Linked DNA regions of Homo sapiens. The protein of the gene in region 1 interacts with the protein of each later gene in a pairwise test. Each region holds a gene or a part of one and is shown on either strand. Other genes may lie near its edges.

Region 1 (3,500 bases):
TATGATGTGCTTAGTATAGCACCAGGGAAGTAGTATACTTGTAATAAATGCTAATGAGCTAATGATTATTTTCATATTTGGTGAATTTTACAACTTCTGATTTACACTAAGAGAAAAGCACAGGAGAATTATGCACAGTAAAAGGAATAAGTATAACATGCAAGTCCACATAATGTTCTGCTGGAGTACAGTGGATGGAATGATGGATTCTACCTAACAGACTTGGGGAAGGCTTCCCAAAAGCAGTTTCACTCCTAAGATATGTCTTGAAAGAAATGAAGGAATGAGGATAAAGGTACTTTAAGCAAAGAAAACCATGTAAGCAAAAGTGTGGAGGCTTTTTTTTTTTTTTTTAATCATGTCACAGAGTTTATTGTGTCATGTTTGGGGGCCTAGGAATCATCCACAGAAGCAGAAAATTGTGATGATTAGTTTTAGGTGATCTGCAAAACATCAGATCAGAAAATACACATTTTCCACGCATCTATCCTCCTACTTACTCACCTATCCACCCATCTAAGTTTAGGTATCTTGTTCTGTACTAGATACAAGAGGTCTTTAGGATACAGATCCTGCTCTTCAGATATTCAAACTTTATAAAAGACAAGACATGTAGGTAAATAATAATGAAGGCAGAAAGTGGTACTATAAACGAAATAAAAACTAAGTTTGATGGGGGTTGAGGAGTCATTCCAATCTGAAGGGATACAGAATTTTCAAAGGGAAGATGACATTTTATATTGGCCTGGAAAGATGCATAAATACATGGAGAGGGAAGAAAGAAGTGGGCAAAAGGCACAACCTTAACAAAGTATAAAAGGCAAAGGAAAGGACAAGAAGTTTCATGTATTAGAAAGAAAACAGAGAATACTTAAACTCTATGCATTTTATTTTCTCCACCTTTAAAATGGAAAAATACTGTCTTTACAGAGTTAATGTAAGAATGAAATAATATATAGAGTGTATAGAATGCTAAGATTTGGCTCTGCACCAAAAAAGCCTTTAATGAATTTTAGTTCTCTTTTTTATTATCCTTAGATTAAAACTGTGGGAGTATATATGGGGAATAGAGTAACAGACTTGGAAAGGTAAATTGGGGGAATAATTATAAAAGGTCTTCAGAGCCAAAATGAGATTTTTGAGCGTCATTTTCAAGGGCATGGTGAGGTGATGAATGTTTTGAAGCAGGAAGATGATATGATCAAAGCAGGAATGGAGTGGGGAAACATCAGAGAAGACGGGGATAATGGGGAGTCTGAACTAGGGAGCAGGTGGTGGAAATGGAAAGATTCATTTGAGCAATATCCAGAAGTATAGTCAGTAAGATTTGAAAGGTGAGTGGATTATGGTGGGGGAGTGGTGAAGAGCAGAGATAGCCAAAGACTCAAGCCTAGATGATTTAAAAAATAGCAGTGCCTTATCAAGACAGTTTATTTCTGGCTTAGAGTACCCTCTGCGTCACCCAATACAAACCATGAACACTCCAACCCTCTTGATATACATATACTTATGAAGTTGACCCAGAGAGATCTCAGTGCTCTGTAGCCTTAGGTCACTGTCAACGTATACCCCAAATCAGAATGAATAGGTCTAGCAAGTTGAGGCATATGATAAAGTCAGCATTTCATAAACGCAAATCCTACAGCTGTATCTGTGCAGTCTTGTGATCTGCAGATGGTCAACCACCCAGGAGAAGGAGGAAGTGGAGGGCAAGTTCGTTTGATTTTAAGGACAATGCATTTAGCTCAAGAACACTTTGCACATGACATCAACTCTTTCTCCAGGCATAGAGAAGAAGGGGAGTTAATGTAGAGATATACATTACAACAAATTTCTACCATATTAGCTTTGGAATGCAATCTGACAAATATATAGCAGCAGACATGCACAATTATCTAAAGTTAATCCTTCCTCCCTGATATCCCACTTCCTTTGTACTGCAAGGGAAACTATGCATCTAGTGCCTATTATATGCTAGTTACTATGACAGATACTTTATATGCTTAATCTCTTTTAATCTTCATGATGACACTATGAAGTGGTAATATTTTTATTATCCTATTTTACAGATGAGGAAACGAATGCTCAGAAAAACTTGCTCAAGGTCACACAGCTCAAACATAGTGGAACCTTGAAGTACAGATATTTTTACTTTATTTAACCCAACATTATTTCAAGCTATTTTTTACTGTCACATAACAATGATTAACTAATGTTCCCTTGACCACGCTCTGGGGAATGCTGCCTTATAGCATACGCATTTTCTCCATAACACAGAAGGAACACTAATATAGTTATGAGATTCTGCTGCTATAGAGTGGGATAGATTGATTTATTAGCTGAGTGACCTACTCTCACACAGCAAGCTTGCAACCCATTATGACTCAAATCCATACCTCAGCAAAATAATATTTACCATATATCATGAGCGTATGAGGTCTGATGTGGATATCTGAAACTATGAATGGTAAATTCTTAAATGCCAAGTGTCTAGGGGCAATAGCATAGACATACTGATAGAAATTACAACTCAGGGCCAGGCGTGGTGGCTCATGCCTGTAATCCCAGCACTTTGGGAGGCTGAGGTGGGCGAATCATGAGGTCAGGAGATCGAGACCATCCTGGCTAAGACGGTGAAACTCCGTCTCTACTAAAAATACAAAAAAAAAAAAAAAAATTAGCTGGGCGTGGTGGCAGGCGCCTGTAGTCCCAGCTACTCGGGAGGCTGAGGCAGGACAATGGCATGAACCTGGGAGGCGGAGCTTGCAGTGAGCCGAGACGCGCCACTGCACTCCAGACTGGGTGACAGAGCGAGACTCCATCTCAAAAAAAAAAAAAAAAAAAAGAGAAATTACAACTCAGGATCCATGCAACCCTTCTCAATTCTAAATCAATAGCTACAGTTCTCTCTTCTATCATCTGGGACAACAGACTGAGGACATTTGGAGTTTGAATCTAGAACGTTACCTTACAATGCACAGGGACATCTGTGTTCTTCCCAGAGCTGGCAGTGCAGATCAGTTTATTAAACAAGGCTGCCAACTTGTAAAAATAGCAGCAAATTATTTCCCAAGCTTTCTGGAATATCATATCCCTCCTTCAATTGAAAAGCTTCCTACCTCTCTGTCTAAGACATCAGGTTTAAAAAAATGAATTTACTATGCCCACATCCCCAAATTATCTCAGCTGACTACAGCTTCACCAAGCTCTCTGAGGATGTCAAGAATTCCTGCCCCAAAGCTGCCATGCTTTGCCAGGAAAACCTGTGTTCCCCTCACTAAAGCATGAGGCACGGAAATAGTCTCAAACCTGGAAAAAGCCAGAACCACTTTTCCCACTTCCATGACTTGAAAACACTGCTTTGTGAAGGATCTTAGCCTGAAATGGAGCTAAGAGACAGGCAGATAGAGCCCGTCTCCTCCAGAAGGGCACATCTGGTCATTACTGTAATACTGAGAATGACTCAGATAGAAGGTCAATTTGACTTCAGTTTCCCCAAA
Region 2 (3,500 bases), on another chromosome or scaffold:
CATGTGAGATCGGTCAGAAGCAAAGTTCTTCAAATATGAATCTGCACGGATCACTCTAAATTTCCTGCAGAAAAATCAATATACACTCACATTAGGGAGATGTCATGTTTGAAATTCTAACTCCATTTTTATATCGACTCATTTCCTATGACATGCACAAAACTACTCATGCATTTCTGTATGGTTAGTAATACAGGCAACTTTACTACCTATTAGAGAAGCATAGGAAATGATCAACCAAACCCCGAAACAGAAAGGCAAAGGCACAAAAATATATCTGGTTGCCTCGATTTACTCGATTTGTGTATCAAGGGCAATGGGCATGATTTTCTGATGCTGCCCTCACAGCCCTCTCAATGGTGACAGCACGAGGTATCCCCACAAAAACAAAAAGAATATAAGAAAAATCCCCAACCCGCTTGAAATTAAATGTCTGAGATCTCATCACACAAAATTTTAAAAGAATGACAACCTTTCATATGATAGATAACTTTTAAAGCTTTAAAACATTTTGAATCTCCTGTGTTGCAAATACATCATTCTTAAACATCAACTCAATGGTGATGTCAGACGAGATCTTTACAAAACAATTGTCAAAAAAAAAAAGAACCTCTGTGGAATCGTCAAATTCTTACTTCAGAAAATAAGTAAATCCATCTTGAATGTCCTCACCTCCTAAACTGTGGGTGAATGTCATCATCAGACTTAAAGGCATCTTCTACATAAGTGTCAAAGAGGCAGGGAAATGGCAAGACAGTATCGAGATCATAAATGAAGTTCTGTCCTCCACTTGAAACATGAAGCAAAACAACATGGTAATCCTAAAAGTAAAAGTTGCTGAAGTTAACCAAGTTACTTCATAATGATGAAATCCCAGTATTCAGACACATACCTTATCACTAAAAAGGATATAGGACTGCTACAGCCCTCCTTATAATAGCAAAATAGAATAAAGCAAACACAACACCCTGAAAACATGAAAACAGACTAAATGTCCACAGATAGGGAAATGGTTAAATAATGGAAATGTTCATAGTCATTAAATGCACATCCTCTGAAACTGCAATTTTACCTCTAGGAAACTTTTTTTTTTTTTTTTTTTTTGAGATGGAGTCTTACTCTCGTCACCCAGGTTGGAGTGCAGTGGCATGATCTCAGCTCACTGCAACCTCCACCTGCCGGGTTCAAGCAATTCTCTTGCCTCAGCCTCCCGAGTAGCTGGGATTACAAGCGCGCACCACGATGCCCAGCTAATTTTTTGTATTTTTAGTAGAGATAGGGTTTCATCATGCTGGCAAGGCTGGTCTTGAACCCCTGACCTCAGGCGATCCACCCGCCTCAGTCTCCAAAAGTGCTAGGATTACAGGTGTGAGCCACGGTGCCTGGCCCCACATATTTTTTTTAATTGAGACAGAGTCTTGCTCTATCACCCAGGCTGGCGTGCAGTGGCATAATCTCAGCTCACTGCAACCTCCGCCTCCTGGGTTCAAGCGATTCTCCTGCCTCAGCCTCCTGAGTAGCTGGGACTACAGACACCCGCCACCACGCCCAGCTAATTTTTGTATTTTTAGTAGAGATGGTGTTTCACCATGTTGGCCAGGCTGGTCTCCAACTTCTGGCCTCAAGTGATCCCCCCGCCTCAGCCTCCCAAAGTCCTGGAATTACAGGTGTGAGCCACAGTGCCGGCCCCACCTGCTATTTGTTAAAAGCTATCTGTATATAAAGACATACGTGCGCATTCAGAAGTACATTTGCATGCATGTGAATGCAGAGGAAAACGTCTGCAAGGATCTGCTCCAAACTAGTAACAAAGGAGGCTTCTGGGGGTCAGCCTGGAGAGGAGAAGGAGGACTTTAATTTCTAGTTTGGAACCACTTTTGCAATTAAAAGAAAGGAAAAACTATTTTTTAAAAAAAGAAGTTAGCCAAGCTTTCATCTGTAGCCACTAAGGGAGAAAGAAAAAGACAGCTTTTCCCACACAGCTCTGTCACAGTGTGGATGTTAATTCTCACCCTCACTCTCAGACTCAAGGTACTGCCCAACACCAGCGATGAGCTGAAAGGGATTTCAGGGAGGTGATCAAGGGACATGAGCAATGTGGTGCTCTGAGTTCTTCCAAAGAAAAACGCTCTCATAGAGAACAGCACTGTGAAATCAAAGCAACCTAGCAACATTAGTAATACCAACTTATATTTCTACAATATCTTAGAGTTTAAAAGGCACTTTCTTTCTCAAATATCATTCTACTTGAGCCCTGTATAAATCCTGAGGTAAGAACAATACTTAAGACTAGGGATGCTGTGCCTTTAAAAGCCTGAGTGCTGCCTTTGGCTCTAAGTCTGTCTTAGCAAAACAGAAAGATTCAAAAATGAATGCCTATTCTCTGGACTTCCCCAGATACATCCTATCCTCCACGCCCCCAAACAGTCCACCACTGCCTCCCAATGGGTCTGCTCATGTCATTCCCCTCCATCTGCAGCAACCTTCTCTACCTCTTTCTACCACACAAGCTCCAGCTAAAGGCTTTCTTCCCACGAATCAATTTTTTATCTTCTCCCACCCCCTGCCAGAATCTCCGCCTTATCCAAATTCTGTTTCTCTCTTAACATCTTCTAATTCATATTACAGGTTTGTTGTTGTTGTTGTTTTGAGACAGAGTCTCTCTCTGTCACCCAGGCTGGAGCACAGTGGCACAATCCCAGCTCACTGCAACCTCCACCTCCGGGGTTCGAGTGATTTTCCCACCTCAGCCTCCCGAGTAGCTGGGATTACAGGCGCGCCACCACACCCAGCTAATTTTTGTATTTTTAGTAGAGATGGGGTTTCACCATGTTGACCAGGCTGGTCTCGAACTCCTGGCCTCAAGTGATCTCCCTGCCTCTGCCTCCCAAAGTGCTGGGATTATGGGTGTGAGCCACTGTGCCCAGTCCCATATCAGTTTTTTTGAACCACACATTATCTATTCTATGTGAAAGACTGTGCTGCTGAACTGCAGATGCAAAGATGAAAAAGATAAGTTCTCACCCTCAAGAAGTTCCCAGAGAAGTGAATGGGAACCAGGTAAACTGCTGCAGGATATTGTGGAGAACAGAGAACATCAGAGGCAGGAGAGCAATGCAGGCAGGAGAGCAATGCAGGCAGGAGCAGGTAAGCGCCTGGTTCCAATCTCAGCCCCTCCCCTCGGCAACCTCACTCTGCTCTTTTATAAAATGGAGATAACTGGAGTATCTAACTCCAGGGTGTCCAATCTTTTGGCTTCCCTGGGCCACACTGGAAGAAGAATTGTCTTGGGCCACACATAAAATACACTAACACTAACGATTGCTGATAAGCTAAAAAAAAAAAAAATCACAAAAAAATTTCATAATGTTTTAAGAAAGTTTACAAATTTGTGTTGGGCTGCATTTAAAGCTGTCTTGGGCCACATGCAGCCCATAGGCTGCAGGTTAGACAAGCTTGGTCTACCTCATAGTGCTGCTAGAAGCATTAGTGTGTAAATG

What was found.
Region 2: the proteins of TRIM32 (region 1) and NTAQ1 interact in binary tests that used the Homo sapiens proteins (3 or more experiments, as listed by UniProt).

What each region holds. Positions count from the first base shown.
Region 1 is NC_000009.12:116,693,805-116,697,304, reverse strand, and holds part of TRIM32 (E3 ubiquitin-protein ligase TRIM32), read right to left. Parts: intron 1-3,500. UniProt on the Homo sapiens protein: E3 ubiquitin ligase that plays a role in various biological processes including neural stem cell differentiation, innate immunity, inflammatory resonse and autophagy.
Region 2 is NC_000008.11:123,433,774-123,437,273, reverse strand, and holds part of NTAQ1 (protein N-terminal glutamine amidohydrolase), read right to left. Parts: intron 1,833-3,500; exon of another isoform or gene 1,762-1,832; coding exon of another isoform or gene 1,732-1,761; intron 822-1,731; coding exon 673-821; intron 65-672; coding exon 1-64. UniProt on the Homo sapiens protein: Mediates the side-chain deamidation of N-terminal glutamine residues to glutamate, an important step in N-end rule pathway of protein degradation.